2 linked regions of the Homo sapiens genome follow. Changing the gene in region 2 together with the main gene of any one other region gives a genetic interaction. Each region holds a gene or a part of one and is shown on either strand. Other genes may lie near its edges.

Region 1 (7,226 bases), 1.5 Mb from region 2:
AGTGATGCCTGGGCCACAACCTTCCCGTGGTTCTTCTGGTTATCACACCTGGGTTCACTCACTTTATATGGAGGGGATGATTCTCAGCCTTGAATGAACTTCAGAATCACTTGGGGAGCTTTTGAAAAAAAATACCAATACCTGGCCCTGGGTATATGGGGCAGAAACATTAAATCAGAATATCTAGGGGGCGAGCTCAGACATGGGTTTAAAAAATACTCATATCAACCTGTGTACCCTTCCATAAGAGCCACGGACGTGTGTAGTAATGTAGTCAAGGTCAGAGGAACTTCCTCACGTACTGGAGAAATTTGCACCCCTCCTTCCTTCCCCAGGCAGCAGGCTTCCTCCTTGCAATCCGCCTGCCGCCTACAGGCGTCGCTGAGGGACAGCTGGCCCAGTTTGCGGATTTTCCTCCGGATCCCACACCCATGTCCAGGGAAAGCCGGAGCCACGGCGGTATAAATTAGCGCCTTTATTTTGATCACCTGAGCGAGCGCCCGCGGCTCGCCCGCCTGCGGTATAAACGTACAAATTCCCTGTAGCACCACACACCATGCCTCAGAGATAAATACAGCCCCAGGGGCTCCTGCTCTGGCAAAGCAACTCTTATTTACAGGAATAGATTACAAAAGTATTACAAAAAGTGGTCCTGAACCGGGAAACGGGTTGGGGGTGGGTTACGGTTACACCTGCTACATTTGGGACCGGAGTGCACTGGGTCTCACGCCCCCCCAAATAACCGGTGCATCCCGGGGCAGGGCTTAGGTCTGCGAGGGTCTCACCCCCATGGGGGAGGGCGCGAGAAAGCTGAACCTAGCCCCTCAAGGTTCAGCTCTGGCCCACCGAGGAACACGGAGCGGCCATCGCAATGGGTCTCCGAGAAGGGTGCTGCGTGGAAAAAACCGCGCTGTGTCCTTGCCCTGTGGGGCGGGGGCGGAAACTTCAGTTCTCCCGCCTCTCCTACCTCAAGAGAGGTCGCTTTTAAAGCGCTGTTGGGAGGGGGGCATTTAAGTTCAATCTTTTGGGCGCGAGGGACCCTAGGGGCACCATCCCTCGGGCGGGTGGGCGGCCACCATCCCCTCAGAGCACCTGGTATATCGGGTTGGGGTTCGCACCCGCAGGGCACTGCGGGGCGGCGTCCGGTGACTGGGTGGGGTCGCCGCTGCTCTCTCCCTCGCTGGGGGCGGCAGCCTCTTGCCTGCGCGGAGGCGACTCAGAAGGCACGTCCGCCAGCAGGAGGGCGGGCGCCGCAGGGCTCTCGGTGGAGATGCGCTCCACGATGCTGGACAGGCAGTCTAGGCTCGACACCGCCGCACTCTTCCCGGGCCTGGGTTCTGCGCGGGGAGGGCTCGGTTAGTAAGCAGGGGTGGGGCCGCGACAAGCCTCCCACCCCCGGGCCCAGTACTTTGAGACAGATTGGAAACTGAGGACTTTAGTTAGAGTCCGGGACAATCCAAAAGACAGGGAGCTACTTGCTTAGTATTTCATCTCCTGCACCACTTCCCAGGACATAGGCGTGTGTGAGTGGGGGTGGGAGCGTCCTAGATAGAGGCCAGGACAGCTCCATGAAGGAGGAGGAGCGAGCAGGGAGAGGCCCGGAATACCCACCGCTGGGCGCCTCGTTGTAGTAGGCGCCTTCGTAGCAGTTCCGCCGCCGGGCGCCGCTCGGGGGGCCGCTGTAGTCCATCTGCAAACAGCAAGGGCGACTGAGTCAGGCCCGCGGGACGGCTCGAGGCCCGAACACCAATTCCTGTAGCCGCCCCCTCCCTAACTCTAGCCTAAGGCTCTAGTTCCGGGCCCAGACCTGTCCTGGTTGGGGGGGTAATTACGGGTGGGTAGGAGATGAGGTCTGCAACATGCAGGGCCAAACCAAGGGCGGACAGTCACCAAGGGGCGCAAATTTACATTTTGGAAGTAGGGATAAGTAGAGAAAAAGATCTTCACGTTCGCGCTGCAGTGTTCTAATAGCGCCCCCAATGGGGCAGCTCGAACGCTTGCCCGCACACTTCCAAAACAGGCTACCCCAGTGACAGCTGCCCAGGACAAGGGGGTCCTCTCTCTCGGGAAGGATCCTGGCCCAAACCTCCCGCAAGGCCAGCTCCCCGCCCTCGGAAACGCGTCCCTGATATCCCGAGCGCCGCCCTAACTTCCTCACTTCCTGGGGTCCCGGCCTTACCATGCCGTCGGAGCAGTTGGAGCGCGGGCTGGACGCGTCGGAGTCGCCGCTGTAGTGCTCGCCGCCGCGGCCCGGGGGCAGCGGGCCCGGCGCATAGAAGGCGGCTGCGGCGCCAGGGGGCGCGGCGTCCTGGTCGCGCAGCAGAGCCTGCAGGCCCTCGATATAGCGGATGGCGTTGCGCAGGATCTCCACCTTGGGCAACCGCTGGTTTGGATTGCTCGACGTGCAGCGCTTGAGTGTCTCAAAGGCCTCATTTACTTTGCTCAGGCGGCGCCGCTCGCGCATGGTGGCGGCCTTGCGGCGGTCGGCGTTGGTGGTCTTGCGCTTGCACGCCTTGCAGGCCCACAGTAGGCAGCGGCCCGCCTGGTGGTGCCCGCTGGGCGCGCGCACATGCTCGTCCTCACGTGCGCCCGGGGCCGGGTGCACCGCCGCGGGGAAGTGCGAGTGCTCTTCGGGTTTCAGGAGCGCGCCCACGTGCATCAGGCGCGGGTCCAGGTCTTCGAAGAAGCGCAGGTCCGGGGAGTCGAAACACGGGTCGTCATAGAAGTCGTCCGTTGTGGCAAAGGAGCAGAGAGAGCCGTCGGGGGCCGTCAGGTCTACGTCGCGGAGCGGTGGCGACAGTAGCTCCATATCCTGGCGGTGGCGCGGCACGGTCCTGGCTTCGCCCAACCCAAGCGGCAGAGAGTGGCCGGAACTTTCTGCCGCTCGGGAGCCCCGGCTGTAGATAGCAAAGTGCTGGCAGTCTGAATGCCCACCCACTGTCCCCCACCCCTCCCTCTCCTGTCCGGCCTGATTTGTGGTTAAGGAAAGCGGCGGCAGCGCCCCAGGGCTTCCTCACCCCTAGCTTCTCGCCAGGCGCCCTGGGCTATTTATCCGTAGTAGCCTAAACGCCCCGGAGCCCAGGCGGGCAGCTGGGGGAGGGGGAGTCCGAGGCCAATAGGAACACTGCGGGGCGGGGCTTGGGGGGGTCCCCGGGGTGGCCGCAGGGGCCCGCAGACTGGCCAGCCAGCCCGCCCCTCCACACTGGCGTGCGCGCTAGGTCCCCTACCGGGCAGGGAGGGAGGGAGCGACCGGCAGCCCTAGGCGGCTGCACTTGGCTCTCCGGCACGCCCTTTCCAAACCTCTCCAACACCCGACTGCTGTATCCGCGGGAAACGCTGGCTGCGCGCGCTCACCTCTGAGCTGACTTTCAATACTCCTCTGTCCCCTGATTTGTGGGGGACCCATGGGTAGAGCGGCTGTAGAAATCAGGTCGTGAGAGATTTGGAGAGAGGCAAGGCATTGGGGGCACAGAGCTGAGGAGTGAGACCGTGAAAGAGGGACCGAAAGAGGCTGAGAGACACGCAGAAAGCAGAAAGCTTAGAGCGTCAGGGGCAGAGAAACGCACGAGTGCAACAACAGGCGGAGAGACCCCGAGAGTTGAAGTGGGCGAGCCCGAGACAAACGGGTCGTAGAGGCTCTGATATTCCGCCAGTCCCCGACCTGGGAGTTGCTCAGCAGGTCGTGGGCCCAGTCCTTCTTCCCTAGACGCTTAGAAACCCAGCTATGGTTGTACAGGAATCGGAGATTGCTGCTAAAGCTTCGCGCCAATCTCTCCAAACTCGGATCCTGCCCAGGTTAGGAATCCCCTCCATCTAAATCTGCACGTTTCCACAGCAGGGGTGTCCAGTGCCATGCCTGGGGTCTAGGCTGAGCTGCCTCTTCAGCTGGGAAGAAAACCCTTCTGCTCGGGGCTTGGCTCCGCCTCACTCGCGGTGCTGAGTCAAGGAAAGTGCATTTCGCCAAGGTGTCAAACTTCAGGACCTGGCCTGAGAACCTGACCTCATCTCACCTGAAGTCTCCGAGAGTGCGGTTTGCAGACCAGTTGAGTGCAGACTCCAGAGTTTCCCAACTGTGTGATTTTGTGGAAGTCATGTCTCCTTCCTGAGCCTCAGTTTCCAGTTATAGATTTGGGGATGACAGTAATTTCTTGGAGTAATTGTGGTGGGGATGACAGTCTGAAGAGACCAAGGATATGGAAGCCCTCAGGCGGTGATGTAGGGTTATTCGAGCAAGGGGCTTTCAGAGTTGGATGCTGTGTCCCGCAGGCTTACAACTCATCTGTGGTACCATGCCCTGACGGAGTGCCACGAGTCTCCAGGCCTTAGCTGTGTCTCTTTCCTGCAGCCTCACTGGAAAGGCTGGAAACAGGAGGAGGCAACCACCCCATGGGATGTGGGATATCTGGCTCCCATACAAGCCTCAGCATACCGGCCACCCCCATGGGGGTCTCTCAGCCTCTTCCTGAATCTGCAGTTCACACAGTCCTCTCAGCACTCTGGCTAGGAATCTCCGTTGGCCATACATCCCTGCCTGGATCTCCCCTCCTGGAAACCAGAAATTTAAGCAGGAGTGATCTTTGTGCCTTTCCCACTAACTTCTGGAAGGCATTCTAGCTGGCCGTTCTGGGCCCTAAGAAGTCCTCCCTTCCCACAAAACTCAGAGGGCTCTGTTGGGGTCCTAACTTCTTCACTTCTCTGCTGCTGGTAGTGGTGCTGAAGGTCTCCCTTCATGAAGTACTCACCTCGCTTTACTCCATAGGGCCCACCTGTATTTGTTCATTCAGTAAAGTCTACATCATGGAGCAGCAGTGACAGTAACTCTAAATCCTGGCAGAGGCAGCAAAGTCCTGGCCTCACCCCACCCAAGCTGCAGGGGGTCACCCGGAAATCCACATATTGTTAGGTATCCATTATGTGGCAGGTACCAGTCCAAGTGTGGGGCTAGAGCAATGAACAAAACCAAGACTCTGCTTACATGGCACTTACATTGTCAATGTAAGCAGGGTGATAGACAATGAACAAATAAGCAAGGAAGTATGTGATGCCAGGAGGTTAGAAGCCTTATGAAGAAAAAGCAAGGCAGGGAGACACAGTGATGAAGATTATGGAGTGATTAGAGAAGGCCTCTCTGCTACATTTAAGCAGAGACCTGAATGAAGAGAATTGGAAGCAGATACCTGGAGATATGTAGGGCCAGATAGAGGGATAAGCATGTGCAAAAGTCCTGAGGCAGGACCATGTTTGGCAGATTCAAAGTATGGCAAGGAGGCTCATATGTCTGCAGCAGGGTGAGTAAAAGAGATAGTGGGAAATGGGGTGAGAGAGAGAGAAACAGGATTATATTCTGAGATGGCTTGAGCCATCTCACTGGAGGGCTTGAGCGGAAGAGAAGAATATCACTATCTGATTTACATTTTAACAGGAGCATGCTGGTTACTGGAGGGAAAGGGCAGAAGGAGGGAGACCAATTAGGAGGCTATTGCAATAATCCCAGTGAGTGGAGCTGGTGAAAAGTGGTGGTTGAATTCTAGATATATGTTTTCAAGATGGAGCTAGCAGTATTTACTCACGATTGCATGTGGGAAGTGAGATAAGCAAGGAGCTAAGGATGACTCCTGCAAGAATGGAGTTGAGAAGACTAGGTTTGTGGGTGGTAGATTAAGTGTCCAGGTTTGGGCAAAATTTGAAATGCATATCGGATATCCAGATGGAAGTGTGGATTAGGCAGGGGGATTTTTAAGGCTGGAGTTCCCAAGGAGAGGTCTGAGTATGAGGAAGAGCTGTCCATTCTACCTCTAAGACCTGTCTCAAGTCAGTCCATCCCTAGTGTCACCATCCTGGACTAAGCTGTCACACTGCTGCTCTGGATGACCACAATAACCTGGCTGCCCTCCTCACTTCCTCTGTAGCCTCAGTATAATCCATTCGTTACATAGCAGCCTGAGTAGACCTTTACAATGTAAATGGGATTATGCCATCCTCCTGCTTCAAACTCCCCAGCAGCTTCTTGCATTTAGAGTAAAATCTCATCTCCATCCCCTGGCCTATCAGGCCCTGCATGAGCTAGCCTCAGCCTGTGTCTCTTACTACACCTGGAGGCACCATCCGTTTTGATTGCTCTACTCCAGTTAGCCTGACCTCCTTTCTTGTCTTCTAACACTCTGAACAGGATCCTGCCTTGGAGCCTTGTCCTTGCTGCTCTAAACTCATAGCATTATCCCCTGGGCTTTTCCCAAGATTGACTGCATTTTATATAATAGATCTTCTTGCCTCCTTGGGACATCACTGACCATTCCCTCTAAGATAACTGCCCCCCATACTCTGGTTCACACCACCCTGTTAATTTCCTTCCAGGCACTGCCACTCTTTATAATCTTCTTCATTAGTTTGTTCATGACTGACTTAGCCCCATGAAGGCAAAGATGTTTTGTTCACAATGACATTTCCAAAAACCATCACAGTGGCAGTCACACAGTAGGCACCTGATAAATGTCCAGTGAATGAATGAGTGGCCTCACGCCCTTTGCATCTCTATGCATATATTTGAATGTCTTGAACTGTGACATTAATGAAGATGGTTGAATTTCTTCAAAACTGGGAAGTCACATACATGATTAGACATCCATGTTCTATTACACTTGCTCTTCCCAGGAAAGGCTCAGACCCCATCTGCCTGGGGCATGTTCTCTTGAACTGGGCATTATACATGGCATGCTGCAATATTGTAGTGGTATACTATAGAGAGATTTGGCATCTCGATGTGTCTTCTTATTGTTTTTTCACTATACTCACAATGAGGAATGTAAGTAATTGTTGTATTGATGATTTAGAAACAAATACTTCTTCCTACTTGCTCAAGGCTCAGCAGAAAGCCAGGTGCATAGTAGGCACTCAATAAATATTTCTTGGGCAAATGAATGAATGAGTCTACTTAATTAAAGAGTACTCTGAGATTCCCAGGTGAGCTATTCAAACCACTTATCTATGCAAATCTAGATTTTCCCCAAATCTGAATAAGCAAGAAACTACAAAATAAATTGGATGCTGAGACAAGTGAATACAACTTTGCTTTTTGTGCTTTGTGTTTCTAAAAACTTCCTCAGGGCTGTCATCAAGTTGCCTTTACAATAAATAAGTAAATGTTATATGTTTGAACTTACCAAACACATTTAATATTTTATCACTTATGGCTTATAAATCTAAACTGCTTTGACAGTTTTAAGCTT
Region 2 (7,021 bases):
TCCATCCTGGCTTCAGATAAGTGCTGGCTTCCTTTCTCTGCCAAGTCACATGTTGTCAATGTCGCCATGGGGTCAAAGTTTTCCCTACAGAGAGCAGTGACAGGCTAGCTTGTTCTGACGTTGAGCTACAGGAAAATGAATGGCCTCTGAGCTGGGCAAGCAGTTGAAGCAAGGGTATTCAGGAGAGCACCATCTTTTCTTGGTGGAGCCCAAGAGTTAAATTTCTAACCAGTTCCCAGGTAATGCTGATGCTGCTTGTCCCAGGACCACACTATGAGAACCACTGGCATACAGTGTTTGTGATTCAATGTGAATTTTGTGATGCTGTCCGGATGCTGAGGGGCCCCCAGGGTGTCCACCCAACTCACTGCAGTGGAAACACGTCTTGTGGAAACTCCTTCCATTGCACTGGATTTCTTCTGCATGGTAGACGGTCTTTTCACAGGCTCCACATTTTGCGCCTCCGCCCCAGTTTGGCATCTTGAAGACTATCTGGTCAAGGTCAAGTCTAAGGGGACATAAAGCAAATACCCTACATTGAAGTGGCCCCAGGAGTGAACCAATCTCTAAGAGTGCAGTGGTCTGAAGACCAGGATCCAGCCCAATTTTTTTTTAGTGTTTCATTTATTCATTCATTTAGCAAACAGCTACTGTGTGCTAGTCATTAAATAAGCTCAGACACTTAGATGGCTTTGGGTAATCACTTTACCACTTGGGAACTCAGTTTCTTCTCCTGTTAAATTTCAGTAACATCTATTCCTATGTATCTCACAGGGCTCCCGGAAGGAATGAATAGGCTAATTTCATGTACATAAAAGTATATACAAAGATCGTTTTTTTTTTCATCTCAAGTTTAAAAAATTATCCCATCAGAACTGGGAATCATCTGTGAAGATGGTATTTTCTTCTTGTCTAGCTAAGAGCTTCTCAAATCACCTTAGACCTTGCTAAATGCAGATTCTGGTTTGGTAGATCTGGGGAGAGGCAGGAAATTCTGCATTTCTAACAGACTCCAGGCAATATTGATGCTGCTGGCAGTGGACTACATTTTGGGTAGCAAAATCTTAGCTTATCTTGCTGATAGAAAAGCATATTAATAATATATAAAATCTCCTATTCCAAGTTATTCCTCATATCCATACATTCCTTTTTAAGAATATAATCACCTAGGCTATAAGATATATTGGCACTACACTAGGTCAGTAGTTGGAAACTTGCTTTCTGCTTTCAGGGCTACCCTCTACCTGCTGTTCATATCAGGATGAACTACATAGCTTAACTTTATACCTGTTTTCCCACCTATACAGTTATTCTTTTCCCTGCTGCTTTAGTGTCCTTTAGAAAATCAAACGACATGATGTGCAGGAAGGTCCCACAGAGTTCACAGTGCTCAACAGGAGCCAGACCATGGTGCTGACATGTCCTCCTGCACCATTGGAGACATTCAGCTACAAGGAGCTGCTAATAGCCACAGCCCCAGGACTGTCATTGTCTCCTCACCACAGGATTACATTTAAGAGATATTAACCAAAGAAAATTATTTAAAAAAATAATTGTCCTCTGTATTTTTAGTAGAGACGGGGTTTCACCATGTTGGCCAGGCTGGTCTCAAACTCCTGACCTCAAGTGATCTGCCCGCCTTGGCCTTCCAAAGTGCTGGAATTACAGGCTTGAGCCACCGTGCCCGGCCTAAACAAAAATTAGCCAGGTGTGGTGGTGGGCACCTGTAATCCCAGCTGCTTGAGAGGCTGAGGAAAGAGAATCACTTGAACCCAGGAGGCGGAGGTTGCAGGGAACCAAGATTGTACCACTGCACTCCAGCCTGGGCAACAGAGCGAGACTCCGTCTCAAAAAATAAATAAATAAATAAAATAGTAATAATAATTGTCCTCATCTGCATATGTTTTTAGTATGAATCCAAGTTTTCAGTTTCCTCAAAGCAGAACTAAAATAAGCCATTGATGTTAAATGAAACTTCTGAAATTCAGCTGCCCAGGGGAGCTGCATTTTCACTGGGATCCTCTGGTTTCTAAGAAGCCTAGTGTGTCATGACATGGAGCACTATCCAGCCATTCTGAGTGGCTGCTTGTGACCTTCACTTTCCCTTCTGGGAAGCCAGTCACCTTCTTATAATAGTTGGCGATTAACACTAAGCCCTCCTGGGTCAACTGGTCCGGATTGTATCTCACAGTCTCATAACAAAGGCAGTTTTTTGCTAAGAAACAGAAAGTAAATAGCAAACAGACCACTGAACCTGATACTAGGTCTAGAAGGAATGTTTCTATCTAAATATTCCCCCAAAGAGCTTTTCCTGCTTAGAAAAACTGTGAGGTTAGCCAGGAACATCCTATCCTTCCTCTCACAGAAGTAGGATCTTCTGCTAATTCAGTAAAATTTTAGAAAAGAACTTTAAAAAAGGAAACATTGGGCTGGGCATGGTGGCTCACACTTACAATCCCAGGACTTTGGGAGGCCAAGGCAGGAGGATCACTAGCCCAGGAGTTTGAGACCAGCCTGGGCAACATAGTGAGGCCCCTGTCTCTACCCCACCCCCCAAAAAATTACCCTGGTGTGGTGGCATGCTCCTGTAGTCAGTCCTAGCTACTCAGCAGGTTGAGGCAGGAGAATCACTTGAACTCAGGAGTTCTAGGCTTCAATGAGCTATGATCACACCACTCTACTTCAGCCTAAGTGACAGAGTGAGGCCCTGCCTCTAAAATAAATAAATAAGAATTTCTTAAAAAATGGAAGCATGTGGTTTTTCTATTTCTGTAGTTCGGGTTGTTTAGGAAACTAGAAAGAGTAATGGATTTTGAGTTGAAAGACTTAGAATTAAAACTCACATTCATTCGTTCATTCATTCATTCACCCTGCATTTACTACCTGCCTATCATGTGTCAAGTACTGCACTAAGTACTCAGTGACAAAAGGGGGAAAACTTATAAAAATGAGTAGTTTGTGACCCCTGGCATTGAGAAGCCCATGTTGTAGTGAGAAAAATAGACAAGATTCAGAATGCTCTGTACCAGAGAAGAGTCTTGTGAGACATGCTACAGAAACTCAAATGACGGACTGGCTCCCCACATTTAGTCTGGGGATAAAGGCAGTGAACTGTTGGAGGGTCACAGAAGAGATCACATTCAAATGGGGGTTTGAAGGGTGAATAGGAGTTCACCAGATACAGAAAAGTGGGAAGGAATAATGCTAATGAAGTCATGCAGAGAAAAGAGCAAGCAGAAAGGCGTAGAGGCCTAAATAGCCTCTAAAATAGCCCAAATTTGTTTATTTTGGACTCCATTTAAACTACAGACTTTCAGGGCTGGAATAGATTTTTAAGATTGCTGGACCCTCTCATTTATAACCAAGGTGTATTTAAAAGTAAGCATTTAGGGATATTTTTCTTAGCCAACTTCTTTTTATACAATCCATTCTTCTCTCATTAAAGATGTTACATTTTCTAGAAAAGAATAGACTCACATAATTTTGCTCATGTTCATTTTGATCCTGAGTTTCAGCATGATACAAAATAGAGGAGAAATATAATAAATTTCCTCCAGGAACATGGCAGCGACACTTGTAAAATTAATGATATAGAAATTTTCAATGAAAACAACCTTAGGTCAAATTTCTCATTTCAGATTTGCAGTGGAGATTTCATTGGCATGTCTTGCAAGTTAATAGGAGACAGAGATACCTCTTGGGGGATAAAAATACATATATATCTGTGTGTGTGTGTGTGTGTGTGGATTCATTGCCTAGGCATACTTTTCAAAATGAGAATAGGATTACAGATAATACCTCCTTCACAAACTAATGTATCCTAGCACTGGTTGTTTTTAAGCGATCATAAATATCTGACATATATCATCAGGACTTGAAATTTAAAATATAAATCTGTAAGTACTCTATTAATGATGCTCAGTTCCATTTCTGAAGATGGGAATGTAACCATGGAGGCTAAACAGAAGATGTCTCACAGGCCAAAAGGTAGAGGATATTTTAAAGCATCCTGAATCCAGGCCAGGCATGGTGGCTCACGCCTGTAATCCCAGGACTGAGGCCGAGGCGAATGGATCATGAGGTCAAGAGATCAAGAACATCCTGGCCAGCATGGTGAAACCCCATCTCTACTAAAAATACAAAAATCAGCTGGGCGTGGTGGCATGCACCTGTAGTCCCAGCTACTCAGGAGACTGAGGCAGGAGAATCACTTGAACCCAGGAGGTGGAAGTTGCAGTGAGCTGAGATTGCGCCACTGCACTCCAGCCTGGCGACAGAGTGAGACTCCATCTGAAAAAATAAGTAAATAAATAAATAAAAAGGCATTCGGAATCCAGAGACATGGATTCTAATCTCGACCTTGAACTCGGGTAAAAAATGTTGATAATAGTATCTCCTGGGCAGGACCATTGTGAAGGTCATGGAAATATGATGGAATTTAAAGCAGTATTGAGAAATTATTTTTTCCCACTTCACTTTAGGTTACTCAAATGGCACCAATGTGCTAATTAAGGAGCTATGATTTGAAATCCCAGTTAGGTCCTGGCTTATGAACATAACCTTTTCAGCTTCCCGCATTGCTTTGGAATTCTTGTGTCCCAACACTCCCCTAGACACTCCCAGAATGTGAGCTTACCCTGGCAAGGTACCAAGGGATGGGCCATTTGTTTATCAGCGTTGCCTGGTACTGGCAAGGGTCATTGAAGGTGGGATACAATTATAGGCTTGCCCGTCACTCGGCCCTGTTTGTAACCTGGGTCACAATCTCCATCATACCACCTGGCACGACTCTCTGGGCCAGTCCCTGAGATGACTATGTTGTCAAAGACAAATCGTGGGTCAAGATTGAAATGGGGGACAGTCTGGAATTTACGAGGATGAGATAGAATGGACAGCCCTGTGACATCAACTTGGAAGAGGTTGGACTCCAGATTTGGATACTCAGATCCCGGTGAGAGACTACCTTGTGCCCACTTTTAAACTAAGATGTAACTAATACCATAGAAGAGATTATACTAGGAATGTGCTTCAGTGGGGCAGTGGGAAAAACACTGGATCAGGTGCCAGAGGCTGGAGTTCTAGTTCCATTTTGCCTCTTCGAAGCTGTGTGATCTGGGAAAACCGTTCAATCTCTCTGAACTTCAGTGTCTTCACTAGAATGAGGGCAATAATCCTTTTGATTTCACTATTGCTGAGAGGACCCTATTAGTTCAAGTACTGTCATATCATTCTGTAAATTGTAGAGTAATATAAAATGTGAGAACCAATTAGGTTCTCCCACAATTTTAAGTTGTTATTCATCAATCTGAATTTTCAAAAGAATAACTAAACTGTGTATTTTGGGCACATTCTTCCTAATCCAACTATTTCTCCCTCCCTCCCTCCCTCCCTCCCTCCCTCCCTCCCTCCCTCCCTCCCTCCCTTCCTTCCTTCCTTCCTTCCTTCCTTCCTTCCTTCCTTCCCTCCTTCTTTCCATCCTTTTTCCTTTCCTTCCCTCCCTTCCTCTCTCCATCTCTTTCTCTCCCTCTTTTCCTCTTTCTTTCTTTCTTTCTTTCTTTCTTTCTTTCTTTCTTTCTTTCTTTCTTTCTTTCTTTCTTTCTTTCTTTCTTCTTTCACTACCAACTATAAAGCTGAGCAATGATGAGTTAGGGCAAAAGTGGTGGGTACATAAAATGAGCACCCAGGAGGGAACTTTAGGCCATGACTTTGGGCAGAGACCTCAAGCCACAGTGCCACAATGCCACCGTTTTCAGCTCAGTGCTAGCTCAGTTGGTCATCCTACTAGATGCCTGATTTCCTGCAGTGAGTTCAATTGTCTACACTGGCTGAAGCAAAGATTTTGGATCATAGGAACATATATATATATATATATGGAATCTAAGCGATAGTAATAGTCATTTCTAACTTTATTATTGAAGTTAACATGCCTGGAGCACTGCCCTTGGGTATCGTTTAATCTTCACAACAACCCTTCAAGGTAGGTGCTATTATAACATTTACTTTACAGATGAGGAAATGGAGGCTTTGGGAAATTACATTAGTCCAAGTTCATGGGACTGATATGTGTCACATGAATAGATTGGAACTTACGTTTCTCTGACTCCAAAGCTTTACATATATTATTTTATGTCAGTTGCTTTACATATATTATTTTTTAATACTTACAACAGCTGCCCAGAGCAAATTTTATTTCCATTTTTATGGATAAGAGAACTGAAGAGCTTAAGTAGCTTTTCCAAGGTCACACAGCTAGTAATTGGAAGAGCTGCCATTTAACCCCCCGTTAAGCTGGTTCTGTATCTCATGCTCCTGTTTATAACACTGGAGAGAGGACAAGGGTCAGCACCTCCATCACCCAGACTTCCCAGTTGATGGGAATTGAGACGTGACCAATCCATTGTCTCTCCATGGGACACAGAGGGTATTCAAGGGTGGGACTAACAGGGAAACTGAATTCATTCACTGAAATCAATGACTTTCTGAGTTACGGCTGTTCAACATGGAAAGGGCTTCCTTGGAACTGGAGATTTCTTCTGCACTATTGATTTTCAGCTGAGGTGGGGACGGATGTCCAAGTGGCTGCTATACAGTGAAGTCCCTTCAAGGGTCCTTTAAGCCCTGAGACAGATTTAAGGATCTGAAAAGTGATTGAAACCTCACTTTGCAGAAAAGCTGCCCAATGGGGTGCCCTCTCAAACCCTCTCCTTTATTCACTCTTAATTTGGGTAAGAAAGATGACATAGCCACAGTGAAAACCATGGGCTTTGGAAGAACCAAGCTTAAGTTCAGAAACACTAACTGTTGAACACTGGGCAAGTTGCTCAAATTCTCTGACCCAGTGTCCTCAATGCATGTCCTCATGTAAAGACAATATGAGAAGGCTTGTCTGGGAAGGTTGTTTTCAGGTTAAAGAAGATAATAATAGCTAAGACACCATATAGAATTACTTAATACATAGCAGGAATTGAATAATTGTAGTTACTTGCATCATGACTATTATTGTTGTTATTACATTATCTCC

The links. Genes that interact genetically often act in the same process or in processes that back each other up.
Region 1: of CSRP3 (region 2) and MYOD1, changing one enhances a phenotype caused by changing the other (phenotypic enhancement), as found in Homo sapiens cells (one study listed by BioGRID).

Annotation. Positions count from the first base shown.
Region 1 is NC_000011.10:17,715,366-17,722,591, reverse strand, and holds MYOD1 (myoblast determination protein 1), read right to left. Parts: upstream 3,022-7,226; 5' UTR 2,810-3,021; coding exon 2,180-2,809; intron 1,691-2,179; coding exon 1,612-1,690; intron 1,338-1,611; coding exon 1,084-1,337; 3' UTR 456-1,083; downstream 1-455. UniProt on the Homo sapiens protein: Acts as a transcriptional activator that promotes transcription of muscle-specific target genes and plays a role in muscle differentiation. Together with MYF5 and MYOG, co-occupies muscle-specific gene promoter core region during myogenesis.
Region 2 is NC_000011.10:19,191,969-19,198,989, forward strand, and holds part of CSRP3 (cysteine and glycine-rich protein 3), read right to left. Parts: intron 4,952-7,021; exon of another isoform or gene 4,745-4,951; intron 509-4,744; 5' UTR 481-508; coding exon 369-480; intron 1-368. UniProt on the Homo sapiens protein: Positive regulator of myogenesis. Acts as a cofactor for myogenic bHLH transcription factors such as MYOD1, and probably MYOG and MYF6.